Regions from separate parts of the Homo sapiens genome. Here region 1 is linked to region 2. Evidence: fine-mapped expression QTL. Tissue or cell type: whole blood. Region 2 holds a variant in brackets; the other region holds the start of a gene. All regions are shown on one strand. Distances are between the middles of the regions.

What was found. PIP is the estimated chance that this variant, and not a neighbour inherited with it, causes the effect.
Region 1: it holds the start of DRC8, and the variant in region 2 is fine-mapped to the expression of DRC8 in whole blood (TOPMed, PIP above 0.99).

Annotation. Positions count from the first base shown.
Region 1 is chr1:244,966,571-244,973,269 of GRCh38, forward strand. It overlaps DRC8 (dynein regulatory complex subunit 8), which reads left to right and starts at 3,112. Exons shown (of 8, transcript NM_032328.4): 1 at 3,112-3,473; 2 at 3,759-3,873. The coding sequence starts at 3,849. LOC124900416 reads right to left here and starts at 4,000. Exons shown (of 4, transcript XM_054328428.1): 1 at 3,756-4,000; 2 at 3,685-3,754; 3 at 403-3,682. The coding sequence starts at 3,967. The coding sequence ends at 3,416. It overlaps EFCAB2-AS1 (EFCAB2 antisense RNA 1), which reads right to left and starts at 4,299. Exons shown (of 2, transcript NR_111907.1): 1 at 4,242-4,299; 2 at 1-3,409. RefSeq lists enhancers at 1,462-1,966, 4,405-4,774 and silencers at 3,175-3,314, 3,585-3,764, 3,775-4,134, 4,145-4,234.
Region 2 is chr1:245,117,919-245,126,339 of GRCh38, forward strand. It overlaps a transcript of DRC8 not described here. Among named protein-coding and RNA genes, the nearest start is that of KIF26B, 33 kb to the right of the region's middle. The variant C/T (reference allele first, on the strand shown) is at 4,244.

The DNA of each region.
Region 1 (6,699 bases), 150 kb before region 2:
GCAGCATACAATATTACAAGTTACTCAAGTATTACAAGTTAACAAGTTACTCAAGCTATAGCTCAGAAGCCATATACATATATATGTGTATATATGTAGAGTATATATGTATATATACACATATATGTAGAGTATACATATACGTAGATGTATATATACTCTACATATATGTATACGTATACATATACGTATATGTATACGTATATGTATATATACATCTATCTATCTATCTATCTATATATATATATATATTTTTTAAGATGGAGTCTTGCTCTGTCACCCAGGCTGGAGTGCAATGCCATGATCTTGGCTCACTGCAACCTCTGCCTCCTGGGTTCAAGTGATTCTTCTGCCTCAGCCTCCTGAGTAGCTAGGACTACAGGCTTGCAGCACTATGCCCACCTAATGTTTGTACTTTTAGTAGAGACGGGGTTACACCATATTGGCCAGGTTGGTCTCGAACTCCTGGCCTCGTGATCTGCCCACCTCGGCCTCCCAAAGTGCTGGGTATACAGGCATGAGCCACCGTGCCCGGCCGCAAAATATATTCTGAGGAATAAAAATGATTGTAGTTAGTTTTCCACAGTCCAAAGCAAGCTAATAATATTTAAAGAGTTAAAAGTGTAATATAATCATCGGTCATGTTTCTACAACCAAAGAGAGTTGAAAGGAGTCAAATATCAGCATAATGCAGATAATGTACTCACTGGCATTGTGGGCCTTTATTATTTGGATAATCATTTTCACCTTGTGGAGACTTTTCCAGAATTATATACTTTTATGCCTAATCAGCAAATTAGGCAGTTGAAAAGTATGTATGAAGCAGCTAATATGTGCCCCAATTAGGCTAGGTAGTGTGGGTATATAAAAAGGGTTTATAAAGGGGGAGGCTCCTATTCAAACCTTAGTGGGGTCAGGAGATGCGGAAGTTAATTAACATATATTAAATATTTTTTTACTCACCCACACCTAGAGAAACAGTACTGTTTTAAATGTGCTGTAGGAGTTCAGAGAAATACTGATTAATGTGGTTTGGAATAAATTAAATAATAAAAAGCTTTGCTGAATACAGTTAGTTTAAAAAATATAAAAATATAGGGGGATTTGCAGAGAAATCTGTTCAACTCTTAAAATAATTTTTAATTTATATATGTTTATATAAGAATTCCATTTTATTAACATGAAATACTAGTACCTTTTTTTGGGGATGGAGTCTTGCTCTGTCATCTGGGCTGGAGTGCAGTGGCGGATCTCGGCTCACTGCAACCTCTGCCTCCTGGGTTCAAGCGATTCTTCTGTCTCAGCCTCCCGAGTAGCTGGGATTACAGGCGTGAGCCACCACATTCGGCTAATTTTTCTATTTTTAGTAGAGATGGGGTTTTACCATGTTGGCCAGGTGGGTCTTTAACTCATGACCTGAAGTGATCCACCCGCTTCAGCCTCCCAAAGTGCTGAGATTATGCGTGAGCCACCGCGCCTGGCCCAGTACTTTTACTGATGAAAAATGTAATGTAAAAGGAAGGTCTGTCTTACATACAATAAGTGCTGAATCTGGGTCTTTTTTAAAAAAAGTCATTGAGAAGACTTACTCCTTTCTTAAGTTTTAAGACATTTATTATTGCAAACAGAAAAATTGTACTAGATACCGGGGATATATAAACGAATAATGCCGTTTCTGTCTTCAAGATCTTACTGTTTGGTAGGTGGAAATAAAGTGAACGAACGAAGGCACTGCAAATCAATGTGGGAGGCTCTATAAGCATGGGGCCACAGAGGAAAAGGCTGAGAGGGAAAGCTTCAATGACTAGGTGACTTCAAAAAGGTCATCCTGGCCAGGCACAGTGGCTCACACCTGTAATCCCAGAACTTTGGGAGGGCCAGGCAGGCGGCAGATCGCTTGAGCTCAGGAGTTTGAGAGCAGCCTGGGCAACATGGGGAAACTCTGTCTCTACAAAAAATACAAAAACTAGCCAGACATGGTGGCGCGCGCCGCTCCTCCCAGCTACTTGGGAGGTTGCGGTGGGAGGGTCACTTGAGACCGGGAGGCGGAAGTTGCAGTGAGCAGAGATCACACCACTGCACTCCATCCTGGACGACAGAGCGAGACCCTGTCTCGAAAAACAAAAGACAAAAACAAAAACAAAGGTCATCCTGCAGGACAACCAGGAGGGCACAAATGTGTGTCTGTGGGAAGCTGAAATGTTGGCGGGGGAAAAAAGCAGGGAAAGGCATTCCAGAAAAAGGAAACTGTAAACAGCACACGAAAAAGCATAGTGAATGAATAGGAAGCCTGAGACCAAACTTAGGGTTTCCTACACTTATTTCAAAGCCCTTCATTATCTATATGGAAAGGGGGAGTCTTTAAACACAAATATTTAGATCATATTGACTGAGATTTAGATATAAATGAATGCTAATAATTACTTTTCGTTATTTTGGGGTGTTAAACATTTACTGTACAAGATTGTATTCGTTTTAAGTATCTTCTAACATGAGCCATTTTGTAATGATTCAGTTGTTTATATTCAATTTCAAGTAGAATGCTGATCACAGCGCCAAATGGGTATCTTCTACAGAAAAAGTTATTTTAATAAAGAAAAATATAGTCAGTTTTAGGATTTCCTGAGAGATTATAGAAACAATAAAAGCATTAAAACTGTTAAGTCATTAAATACGAGTACCTTGTATTTTGAAGGCTCTTAAAATTTAGTTTATAAATTGCTTTTACATAACATATGCACTGAAATACCACTTAAGATTAGTTTTGAAAATAGGTGTTCGTTTCAACCACATCATTAGGTATTTTATTCAAAGCTCTTTATAAAAAGAGCTTTACTATGTTCCAGTATAGTAAACTTATCCAGAAAATAAGACAAAAATTTAACTTCATGCTATAGCTGCAAAGTTTTCGGAAAGCGGGATTTAAAACTTCCATTGTAACTTTAACTAGCGGTCATGTCAAATTTCACAACTAAGAACATTTTAACGCATGTAATACTGAGCACAACATGGGCACGTTTTTGTTGCTATGAGAACCTTCTATTTTGTATTAGACATTGCAGCCTTGACGACGCAATGTTTGTGCTATTTTGCGCATGTTTTCCTGCAGCTATTCCTCTCCTCTAGCAATAGTCGAATGGCTCTGGTTTCCTCTTGCGCCCGGCCCAGTTTTTCCGTTTTAGCTTCGGTTGTCATAGGCTGTGCTGTCGCTTTCTCTGGGAAAGGACGGTGAAGACTGGACGGGAGAAACCGGGAGGGCAGGCGCGGCCGTTCTGCAGCAGCCGGGCCGCTTCCCGGCGGGAGGCGGGCTGCGAATGGGAAGCGGGAGGAGGAGGCCGGGCCGCGGGCTGGTTCTATCACCCCCTTGGGAGCCCAGCTCTTCACCTAGCTCTCCGGCGCTTTTCAAAATCTGCAGTTAACAACAAAAATCGAGCAACGCCACGTCGCACAAACAGGACAGGAGGGGGCGAGGGGTGTGTGCGCGCGCGTGCTGTCCCCAAATGGATGAGAAATAAGGGAAAGGAGGGGTTGGGGACCGTGTGATGAAGCAACATGCTAGGCCCGGGACAAGTCCGGCTCCGGCCTCGGGTCTGGAGGGACAAGGCCGGGGGCCGGGTGGCAGACGGGGCCTCTGGTCTTCCCCCAGCGCGAGGGTCGTGGCGCGAAACGGGGACAGGGCGCGCGCTCGGAGCCTCCTCCCCGCCCCGCCCCGCCCAAGGGTCTTCCTCCCCCGGGATTCAGAGCGGCCCCTCCTCCAGGCCAGGCTCGCCGCGGGGCGCTGAGCAGGCCGGGACACCGCGGCCGAGGTTATCGTTAGGCATCTCCCAGGCGACCGGCTCCGCAGCAAGATGGCGGACGAGAAGGACAGGGAAGGTAAGGTAGGGGAGCCGGGGAGCCGCTGCCCTCGCCGCCCGCCGCGACCCCGGGCTGCACGGGGAAGCGCCGGGTGGGGTGGGCCCTCGTCCATCTGGAGTTCCCACCCGCAGGGAAAGGGCGGCCTGAGGAGGGGGCCACCCGGCAGCAGCAGTCGCCCTGCCCCCGTCCCCGTAGCCCGCCCGGCCCGCCGCTCCGCCCCGCCCCGCCCCGCCTCTCTCCCCCGCCCCGCCCCGCCTCTCTCCCCTCTTCCCTCCCTCTTCTCTCTCCCCTCCTCCCGCCTTCTTCTTTCTCCTCCCGCCCTCTTCACCCTCTTCCCCTCCTCCCGCCCCGTCCTCCTTCCCCCTCCCTCGGAGGCCGGGCCTTGCATCCTGCGCGGGCTGCGCCGGAGGCGCCGGCAGGGGGTGCTGATAATGGCGTCGTTGTTCACGGTCGCGGGGAAGCCGCCGCCGCCTCCACACTCTCGCCTGGGGTCTCGGTGCCGCAGGCGCCACGCCCGTAGCTGTCCAGGCTGTGGGCCCCGGGGGGTGGCCTGGGTGAGGAGGAGTTCTGGCCGCCTGAATCTGACGGGATCCTCTGTTTGCGCCGAAACCCCGCGCTGGCGCAGCCTGATGGCGTTCGCGGCCACCATTTTGCCTCCTTAATGAGGACGCAGGAGGACGGTCTGGAGGTCACAGCCGCTGCCTCCGAGCTTCCCGGTCCTCCGAAATGCCTGCCCCGCCGCCGGCTAGCGCCGCGCAATTGGCCTAGTGTCTTGTCTTAAAAAAAAAAAAAGACACACACCCAAACAGCAATTTTAATAACGACGAAAAACCAAAACCTGGTTGAGATCTTGGAACCGCTGTGCGCCGGCCGGGCCTCTCCCAGGGGACCACCCAGCCCCGCGCGGTGGCCGCCTGCAGAGGCGGGACTGCGCTTCGAGGCTTAAGGTCGCCAGTTCGGAGGCATCGATGTGTTGTCTGTGCGGAGAAGCCAAAAAGTGATTACGTTTATTTGCAAGACCGTTCATGTTGTTTTCAGTTCATGGTATGATTAAAACCCGATCCTTTGTTACCATGCCCTTAGGTACTAAAAAATAATTGTGTTTGATAGTTGGCAGTCACCCAAAAATATCCAAAAAGCCATGAAACAGTAAAGGTAAACAAGTAGGAAGTGAAAATAATATTCGTCCTTTGTTTTCTTTCTGGAGTGCTCAAAACACCCTCTCAAACCATTTTTCTCAGCATAGAACCAAGTGTGGTCAGGTTAACAGCTAATATTTACAAGGGAAGAAACGAACCCTGAGATATTTAGTCACTTGTTCCGGTGATCACAGAAAATCGGCGAAGAAACACATGAAACTGCCAACGATCTCTCTATTGATAACAAGGATACCGTGATTTTTATGTAATATTAATCTGAGAAGCCAGGATTATTTTGTAGGTATTAGCTTTACGAAGATGCCCTTACATACAAAGAAAAGGATAATTTTAAAACTTTCCCAGAAAAATGGATGGCTTATTTTTGTTCTTTACCAAAAAAAAAAAAAAAAAAGCCATTAGGAGATAAACTAGCAAGGTAATTATGGATATTTATTTTCTTAAAAAAGACTTGGTTAGGTCAGCATGAGAAAAAACGCACTGGAGTATGGTACAAATACAGTATTTCTCGTTTTTTAAAAACTGAGAGCTTTCCTGATTTTTCAGCTTTTGAACAATTTTTTTCCATTTAAAGTAAATTCAGAGAAACAATTTTGTCGATAACTCATAGAAGTAATGACTGTTAAAAGCTGGATGCCATTCATTCAGAATACATATATTCAATGCCATTATGTAGATAAGGCATTCTACTTAGAACTTTGAAAGATACGAAAATGAAAGACATTGTCTTTGCTTCCAAGGAAGGTGAGATGAGTAAGGGAGATGAGAAATTTACAAATGGGAGGAAATAGTTAACTGGGCTGAGTAGTCTGGGTGCCAACCACTGTGCTAGGTGTGTATCCTTGTAGTCCGTGGACAGCAGCCTGGACATCACTGGCTGCCACCGACCTAATAATGAATCAGTCTTCATTTTAACATGTTTGTAGGTGATTTGTATGTACATTAACTTTCGAGAAGGCCGGGCGCGGTGGCTCACGCCTGCAATCCCAGCACTTTGGGAGGCTGAGGCGGGCGGATCACGAGGTCAAGAGATCGAGACCATCCTGGCCAACATGGTGAACCCCGTCTCTACTAAAAATACAAAAATTAGCTGGGCGTGGTGGCACGCCCTGTAGTCCCAGCTACTCAGGAGGCTGAGACAGGAGAATTGCTTGAACCGGGGAGGCGGAGGCTGCAGTGAGCCAAGATCACACCACTGCACTCCAGCCTGGCGACAGAGTAAGACTCCGTCTCAAAAAAAAAAAAAAACAAAAACAAAAAACAAAGTTCGAGAAGCACTCATGTGCTGTATCTCATTTATTGTTAACAGTTTTATGGATTAACTAATTGCAGTTTGTGAAGGGTATTATGAAATAAAGGCATTTTGTTAGAGGATAAACTAAGTAGAGACTCATTTTGGTGGTAAGATCTTTTTATGGAAATAGTCTATTACTATATTTGATTGTCAGCTACTGTATTTTGAATTTTCAGAAATTACGTCTAACCAATTAATCAGAATTGATTAAGTTTTGAGGATTCACTCAACTAAACTCATAAAAGACTGATGTGCAAACCTGAATGATTTATTAATTTAAATAAGGGTATATACATTGACTTGAAGGCTGATTTTGCCAATATACTAATATAATAATTTTGGCAATATACTAATATAATAATATACTGTTTTATGGGTACTAAGCTTCGGGTA
Region 2 (8,421 bases):
GATTGTGCCACTGCACTCCAGCCTGGGTGACAGAGTGAGACTCTGTCTCCAATAAATAAATAAATACGCTTAAAATGGGAAATGATGACTTCCAGGCTGTGGGATGTTTACTTAAGCAAAAACCTCTATTACGCTACCTGAGAATTCCATTACTCAAGTTTGAATAATTACAAAACTACGTGATGGGCCTGCCCTGTCTGACTTCCTGCACACTTAGACCGAGAACTGAAAGACCCTAGTGTCAAAAATATTTAAGATCTGCCATGAGAAATAGATGAGGGAGAATTAGAGCAAACCCTGGCCCTAGGGTGCATTTTGAGATTGAAATCGCAGCCTAGTCTCTTCCATTACACCATCAGTAAATCTTGAAGGACAGAAGAGTAGCCAAGAACAACACAGGGACAGGTGCGCTGGGCTTGGCTGGGGAGGGAGCCAGGTGAGGTTGTGGCTTCCTGAAGGCCCTCGAAGTTTGCCCCTGCAGCTTTCTTCGGAGAACTGGGAGAACACCATGTGTCACCTTGTGGAGCATTTTAAAAACGAGTGAGAAACCTTTATCGGGAAGATACTACGTGCTGTAAAACAATGACAGTAAGCCGGGCGCAGTGGCTCACGCCTGTAATCCCAGCACTTTGGGAGGCTGAGGCAGGCAGACTGCCTAAGGTCGGGAGTACGAGATCAGCCTGACCAACAGGGAGAAACCCCGTCTCTACTAAAAATACAAAATTAGCCTGGCGTGGTGGTGCATGCCTGTAATCCCAGCTACTCAGGAGGCTGAGGCAGGAGAATCGCTTGAGCCCCAGGAGGCGGAGGTTGTGGTAAGCCAAGATCGCACCACTGCACTCCAGCCTGGGCAACAAGAGCAAAACGCCATCTCAAAAAAAGAAAAGAAAAGAAAAGAAAAGAAAAGAAAAGAAAAGAAAAAAATAATGATAACAACAGTTGATGAAATGCTTTGATTTCCAGAAGACATTATATAAGGAGAGAACTTTACTTGCATGGGACAGCTGATGAGCTCCTCAGCTAGGGAGAGGGGAGGGATTGACTCATTCTTGATGATGGGGCAGGGCCAAGGCTGTAGGGAATTGGGCATTGTCTGGTTGCTGGTGGTATGAGATGCTGGCGGAGCCCAACCCATGCCTCTGGCTGTTATGCGAGGGTGGGAAAATTCCAGTTTGCTAGAACCATTAATAACACAAGTGGAAATCATGGGTAAGTTTACAGTTTATTCAAGCAAGTACTTCTAATTAAACAGAAAAAAAGAGTGTGAACTCTTGACCAAGGCATATTCATGATTTTCAGTAAAATAATTTCTCACTTCTAGTGGTCAAAATAATAATGAAGTGCGAATATGAAGTGAAATGCAACATTAAGGGTTGGTTAACCCCAAATTCTTTCATCAAAGAGCAATATACAAGAAATTGGAGAGTTTTTTTTTTTTTCATACTAAAAGTAACCATTAAGGGTAAAGAACTGAGCCTGGCACAGTGGCTCATGCCTGTAATCTCAGCATTTTGGGAGGCCGAGGCAGGAGGCCAGGAGTTGGAGACCAGTCTCGGCAACAAAGCGAGGCCCTGTCTCTACAAAAAAAATTTAAAAGTAACTGGGCATGGTGATGCATGCCTGTAGTCCCAGCTACATGGGAGGCTAAGGCAGGAGGCTGAAGTGAGCCATGATCACGCCACTGTGCTCCAGCCTGGGCAACAGAGCAAGACCCTGTCTAAAAAAAAAAAGGAGGCTGGGCACGGTGGCTCACGCCTGTAATCCCAACACTTTGGGAGGCCGAGGCATGCGGATCACAAGGTCAGGAGATCAAGACCATCCTGGCTAACATGGTGAAGCCCCGTCTCTACTAAAAATAGAACGAATTAGCCACACGTGGTGGCAGGTGCCTGTAGTCCCAGCTACTCGGGAGGCTGAGGCAGGAGAATGGCGTGAACCCAGGAGGTGGAGCTTGCAGTGAGCCTAGATCATGCAACTGCACTCCAGCCTGGGCAACAGAGCGAGACCCCGTCTCAAAAAAAAATAAAAAATAAGTAAATAAGTAAATAAATAAAAGAGCAAGGAACTGAACCCAGTGGATAATGCTGGGGCATCAGATAGAGGCTGTTGGCCATTTAGTTAAAATAAGATGGATGACCATAATCTGAAAGATGTAAAAAAAGAAACTGACCTAATTTATTTTTTTGAATGAATAAAATATATGTGGTACAAAATTCAAAAGGTATGAAGGCTCATAGAGTAAAAACTAATTTTTTTTTATAAATGTGTCCCAAAACCACTCGGATCCCTCTCCCCTGAGTGCACCGATTCCAGGGAATCCTTGTGTGAACAGGCAGGTAGCATCCTTATGCGCCCTTCACGCATCTCTACACATCACACTTTTCTCACTAAGCAACAGGTCCCATACGCTCAGTTCCTAATTGTATAAATACCCACCTCATCGATCTCAATGTCTGTGTAGTATTCTATTGCGTGAATGTGCCATATTTTATTTAACCAGTTCCCTTCTCAAGAATATGGAAGCAGTTTTCCATCTTTCAGAAACTCTGATTTATTTGTTTATTATTTGTATTTTTTTCCTGACAAAAATGCTGTTCAGAACAGAAATTCGAGTTTAAATTGCAGTGGCTGTTCTGGTTCATGTAGAACTAGACTTCAGCCTTTTCCTCATTTTCTTTTGCCTGGTAGACTTTTGCTTATCCTTTTATTTTCAGCATTTTTCAAACATTTTATTTTGGGTGTGTCTCTTGTATACCCAAGCAGTGATTGCAACATTTTCAGCAATTGCTATAATTTCCATTTTAGATACAGAGACACCTGTCACTTCGCACCTTAAATGAAGAGCTTCTGAGCTAATTTCTTCAATGGGAAGGCACCTCGGGGGTGATACATGAATAACGTGGAATAATGCAATTTGGGCAGATTACCAGTTAAAAGCAATGTTAGGTTTGGCCCACTTTGCCTTGCAGGCCGCTAAAGCCTCAAACAATATGACACCTGGCCTTTTACAAAGACCGGACAGTGGAGGTGTTGACAGGAATGGTGTTAAGCCAGGTTCATCTGGGTTTGTCAAGCATAGACTTCTACTTTTAAAATATTTAGGGCAAATACAGTTCAAAATTAATTTGGTCAACTACATTTTTCTTAAGTTTCTTTAGTTTTGAAACCTTTGTATATTTTTATTAATTATGAAACTCATACAAATGTTATGTAGGCAGAATTTTCAGGAAGTTTTATGCCCCTTTTTATAAACCTGTAACAAAGAAATAAGTGATATAATAGGGAAATACGGAGGTGTATTTGCAGTCTTTGTATTTTACAAAATTATCATTTGACCATAGATGTGATCGTTGCTGTTCCAAGTAACAGAAAGCTCAACCCATAAAAGGAATTAACTGGCTTATATGTAACGGAAGAGTCCAAAAGCAGACATAGCTTCAGATGCAGCTTGATCCAGGGCTCAGATGCCATGATCAGAATCCAATTCTTGCATCTGTTTCTTTGGGTTGGCTTCATTTTCAGGCAGCCCCCTTCCTCATATCCTCAAGATGGCAGAGACAGCCCATGGTCTTTCCCTTGCAGAGACAGATCACCAGGAAACAATACCTCTATCCCTAGCCATGAAACAGTCTTGAACTTTATTCTGACTTGATCAGCCAAGTCCCTGTTGGAACCATCACTGCCTAGCTTAGGCCTGAGACAGTGCTGCACCTCTACTACCAAAGGCCGGGCTGGCCTTCCCTAAAGTGTATGTGCTGCGTGGGGGAGAGGTACGGATCTGAACCAAAACGAGGGCTGTCCAGCGTCAGCAAATATCTCCCGCAGTCCCAGTGCCTCCAGCAGGAGGCAAAGCATCAACCCCTCCGTCTGGCTCCTCTACTGAAAATTCCCTCAGCAGCCTCACAGGCCTTAGGCTTGTCTTAGCTACTTCTTCATCTACTTTTTTGCTTTCTTAATTATTTTTCTTTTCTTTTTTCTTATTTTATTTTATTTTATTTTAGATGGAGTTTCGCTCCGTCGCCCAGGCTGAAGTGCAGTGGCGTGATCTTGGCTCGTTGCAACCTCCACCTCCCGGGTTCAAGAGATTCTCCTGCCTCAGCCTCCTGAGCAGCTGGGATGACAGGCACACACCACCACGCCTGGCTAATTTCTGTATTTTTAGTAGAGACGGGGTTTCACCATGGTCTGGTGACCTCCTGGTCTCGAACTCCTGACCTCAAGTGATCCTCCCGCCTCAGCCTCC[C/T]AAAGTTCTGGGATTACAGGCATGAGCCACCGCACCCGGCTGCTTCCTTAACTCTTGATCTCCTCTCTGTATCTTGCTTTGTCTAGCTGTTCTCTTCTCTCCATATTCATCCAAACATTTGCTTAGAAGTACCCAGAAGCATGGCGTTGAATGTGGTACACCTTGAACGAAGGGTGAAGAAACGAGGCAGAGTGACTTAGTAGCAAGTGACAGCACACAGTTTAAATTTTAATATTAGCCCATTTACAAACAACAGCTTATATAATAGTCATTCACATACCTCAACACTCACCATCCCCTCCCCACTTTTTTTCTGGAGACAGGGTTTCACTGTCACCCCAGCTGGAATGCAGGTGGCATGATCACAGCTCACTGTAGCATCGACCTCCTGGACTCAAGGGGTCCTCGCGCCTCAGCCTCCTGAGTAGCTGGGACCACAGGTGCATGCCACCACGCCCAGCTAATGTTTTTTTTTATTTTTTGTAGAGACAGGGTCTGGCTATGTTGCTTAGGCTGGTCTCAAACTCCTGGGTTCAAGCGATCCTGCCACCTCAGCCTCCCAAAGTGTTAGGATTACAGATGTGAGCCACTGTGCCCAGCCAACATTCACCCCATTCAAGTGTGCAATTCAATGGATTCTAGTATCTTCACAGTGCTGTGCAACTATCACTCCTATCTACTTACAAAGCATTTCCATCATCTTAAAAAGAATCCCCATGTCCAATAGCAGTTCCCCTTCCCCCACCGTCATCCTCGGGCAACCGCTAATCTTCCTGTGTGTCTGTGGATTTGCCTCTTCAGGGCATTTCACATAAACACAATCATACAATATGTGGCCTTCTGTGTCTGGCTTCTTTCATTTAGTGTAAGGCTTTTGAGGTTCATCCATGTTGTAATGTATATCCTTAGTTCATTCTTTTTTGTTAAGCTCACAAATAAAAAGCCTCACTTTTTATTTGAGGCAAGGAGACTGGCTACAGGGATTACAGTTCCAGCAGTCAAAACGCAACTCCAAGTGGCACTATTTGGACCGTAGGTTTTGCTTCATTTTGGCTGGAAAAGGGTATTCAGGATGTACTTCTCCCAGCCGGACAAGAAAAAGGGCAAAGAAAACTGGAAGAGACGTCTCGTCTACACAAACTGCTCTTTGGACACAGCATCAACCTGACCACACCCGTGCTGGCCAGTCTGCAGGTTGCTGACCCGCCGTTAAGGGACACAGGCCATACTACACTTGCTAGAAAAACTGAGGCAGGAAAAAGAGGTGCAAGGCACTGGGGGAAGAGCAGGTACCTATAGCTTTAAAGCTCAGTGTTGAAGGGGTAATCCTTGCAGGAGGCACAGCTCACCAAGACACAGACCCTCCCGTTCCTGTTGTAGCTGACTACAGTGGTCACATCAGGCTGCTCAGTTGAAAGTCGAAGTCCTCCAAGTTTTCAGCAGTGCGTTCCAGCATCACCACCGAAATGATGATAGGAATTACCACCAAATTCCTATGCATGGGAAACCAGATCAGAACCTGGGCTGCGTTTTTATTTGTTTATTTTTTTTACTGTGCTTGGCTGTGATTGCTTTGGTGCTGGGATCCCCCAGACCTGTCACGAGAGCTGAGGGGACTACAGGCAGTCACCACCTTGCCTTTGGATTGGCAGCCCTGGATTAACTTCTCCTGAGGTGGGTGCAGGTGGCACTCACTGTGGTTAACCACTGTTTTTAAGCCAGGTTTCTTTTTTTCTGTCTGTCATATATATATATATATATTTAGAGACAGGGTCTCACTCTATCACTCAGGCCTGGAGTGTAGTGGCATGATCATAACTCACTGCAGCCTCGAGTTCCTGGGCTCAAGTGATCCTCCCGCCTTGGCCTCCCAAAGTGCTGGGATTACAGGCTGAGACACCACACCTGGTCTTAAGCCAGGTTTCTTTACCATCTCTTGGAGATGGCTGCAGTTGGAGATTCCAAAAGCTTTCAGAGCCCTTCATCCACCAGCTCCTCCATGTGGCCACCCATGTGACATGAAGTTGGTGTCACTAGGTACCACGTTGTCTGTCCCATCCAACAGGAAAAATAGCCTGTTGGCCAGTGAATAAGGTAGGAATCCAGGTGGTCCCCTGAGGGTCTTCTGACAGGCTCCTTTATCAGGCTCTTCTCATGGTATGAGCACCGCAGCTTGCTGACAGTGGCAACGTTCTCAAGCTTCACAGACTCCGTCACTTGGCCTGGAGGGGAATTCTAGGTGTCCAGCCCCAGGACAGGCATTTTGGCACCATGATTGAGCACGATATGGTGAGCCATCCTCACAGGATTAAGAAGAATTCTGGACAGAAATATAGTTGTAAGTAAGCATCAGTCAGCCTGCACTTTGACCCACTTCCTTGTAACCAACAGTGACGTAGCACTAGGTAACATTTGCATCCCCGTTGTTCCTATAGATACAATTTCTGACCTTAGAATCACAAGGCTTTTGTTTAAAATAGATGGGATCTCTGACATTAGAATCATAAGATTTTTGTTTAAGACTTGCTTAAGATGTTTTTCAGATCCTGAATTCCAGCAAAACAGCCGACACCAACCAGTTTGAAGACCCCCACAGAGGAATGTGATCAGCATGAAAATACAGCTTCGTCTCCCTCTCCCATGACTCCACCCTGCACACTTCGACCAATCAACCATCTCCACACTCCAGTCTCCACTCCCAAACCCTTAAAAACCCCAGCCCCAAACTCCTCAGGGAGATGGATTTGACGTTTCCTCCCATTTCCTCCTTCGGTGGCCCTACGATGAAACCTCTTTCTCTGCTACAACCCTATGCCTCGGCGTATTCACTTTCTGGTCCCATCCAGCGATGGACCCATCGTGGTTACCGTGGCTGGCCAAGCCTGCTGTGCTTCACAGACCCCACTCAGGATCACACCACTTCGTTCCACTGTTTGGAGATGCCATGTTTGCTTATCCCTTCATCAGCTGATGAGCATTTGTGCTGTTTTCACTTTTTGGCTATTACGAAAATGTTGCTACGAGCATCCATGATATTCGCCCATTTAAAAAAGTGTTTTTCACCATTACTGCTGTGGGAAATTTCTCCCTGGCTCTGTCCTTTCTTTGTAGCCCAGCCTTCCCCCAGGTTTTGGCTCTCCCTCTCTGGCTCAATGTCAGCTCCTTGTCTCACCTCCTAGAGCAATTCCACTCTCCCACCTCCTGCTGCGGCATTTCCAAAGCCTCTGCTTAGCAAGGGACCACCCATTCTGCACCTCTCCCCTTAGGGCTGCAAGCACCTGCACAAACTTGGTGGTTATCCTATGCCTCAACTCAATCAAATTCTCTCAGTTTTCCATCAGCAATCTTTTTAAGCCAAAGGGAAGGCAAGGACTTGATCTTCACATCACATGAATCATGACACCTGCCTTAGAAGGCAGAAGCAACTGTAGTTGGAATAGCAATTGTTTTTCAACATATGGGATGATATCAAGGCTCTTTCCTCCCCATATGTCCTGCCCTGTTAGTGGCTGGGGCTGAGGGTTTTCCCAGGAAGCCAGATTGTCCTCACAAGTTCCTCAGGACCCTAGGGCTTCCACAGATAGTAGGACTGTTATCAGAAAGAAGTCTCGATCCAGACGCCGAGAGAGGGTTCTTGGATATCGCCCAAGAAAGAATTCAGGGGGAGTCCATAGAGTGAAGTGAAAGCAAGTTTGTTAAGAAAACAAAGGAGTAAAGAATGGCTACTCCATAGGCAGAGCAGCTCCGAGGGCTGCTGGTTGCCCATTTTTTTTTTTTTTTCTTTGAGATGGAGTCTGGCTCTGTCGCCCAGGCTGGAGTGCGGTGGCACAATCTCGGCTCACTGCAAGCTCCGCCTCCCGGGTTCACGCCATTCTCCTGCCTCAGCCTCCCGAGTAGCTGGGACTACAGGCGCCCGCCACCATGCCCGGCTAATTTTTTGTATTTTTAGTAGAGATGAGGTTTCACATGTTAGCCAGGATGGTCTCGATCTCCTGACCTCGTGATCCACCCGCCTCGGCCTCCCAAAGTGCTGGGATGACAGGCGTGACTCGTGATCCACCCGCCTCGGCCTCCCAAAGTGCTGGGATTACAGGCGTGAGTCACCACGCCGGGCCGGTTGCCCATTTTTATGATTATTTCTTGATTATATGCTAAACAAGGGCTGGATTATTCATGAG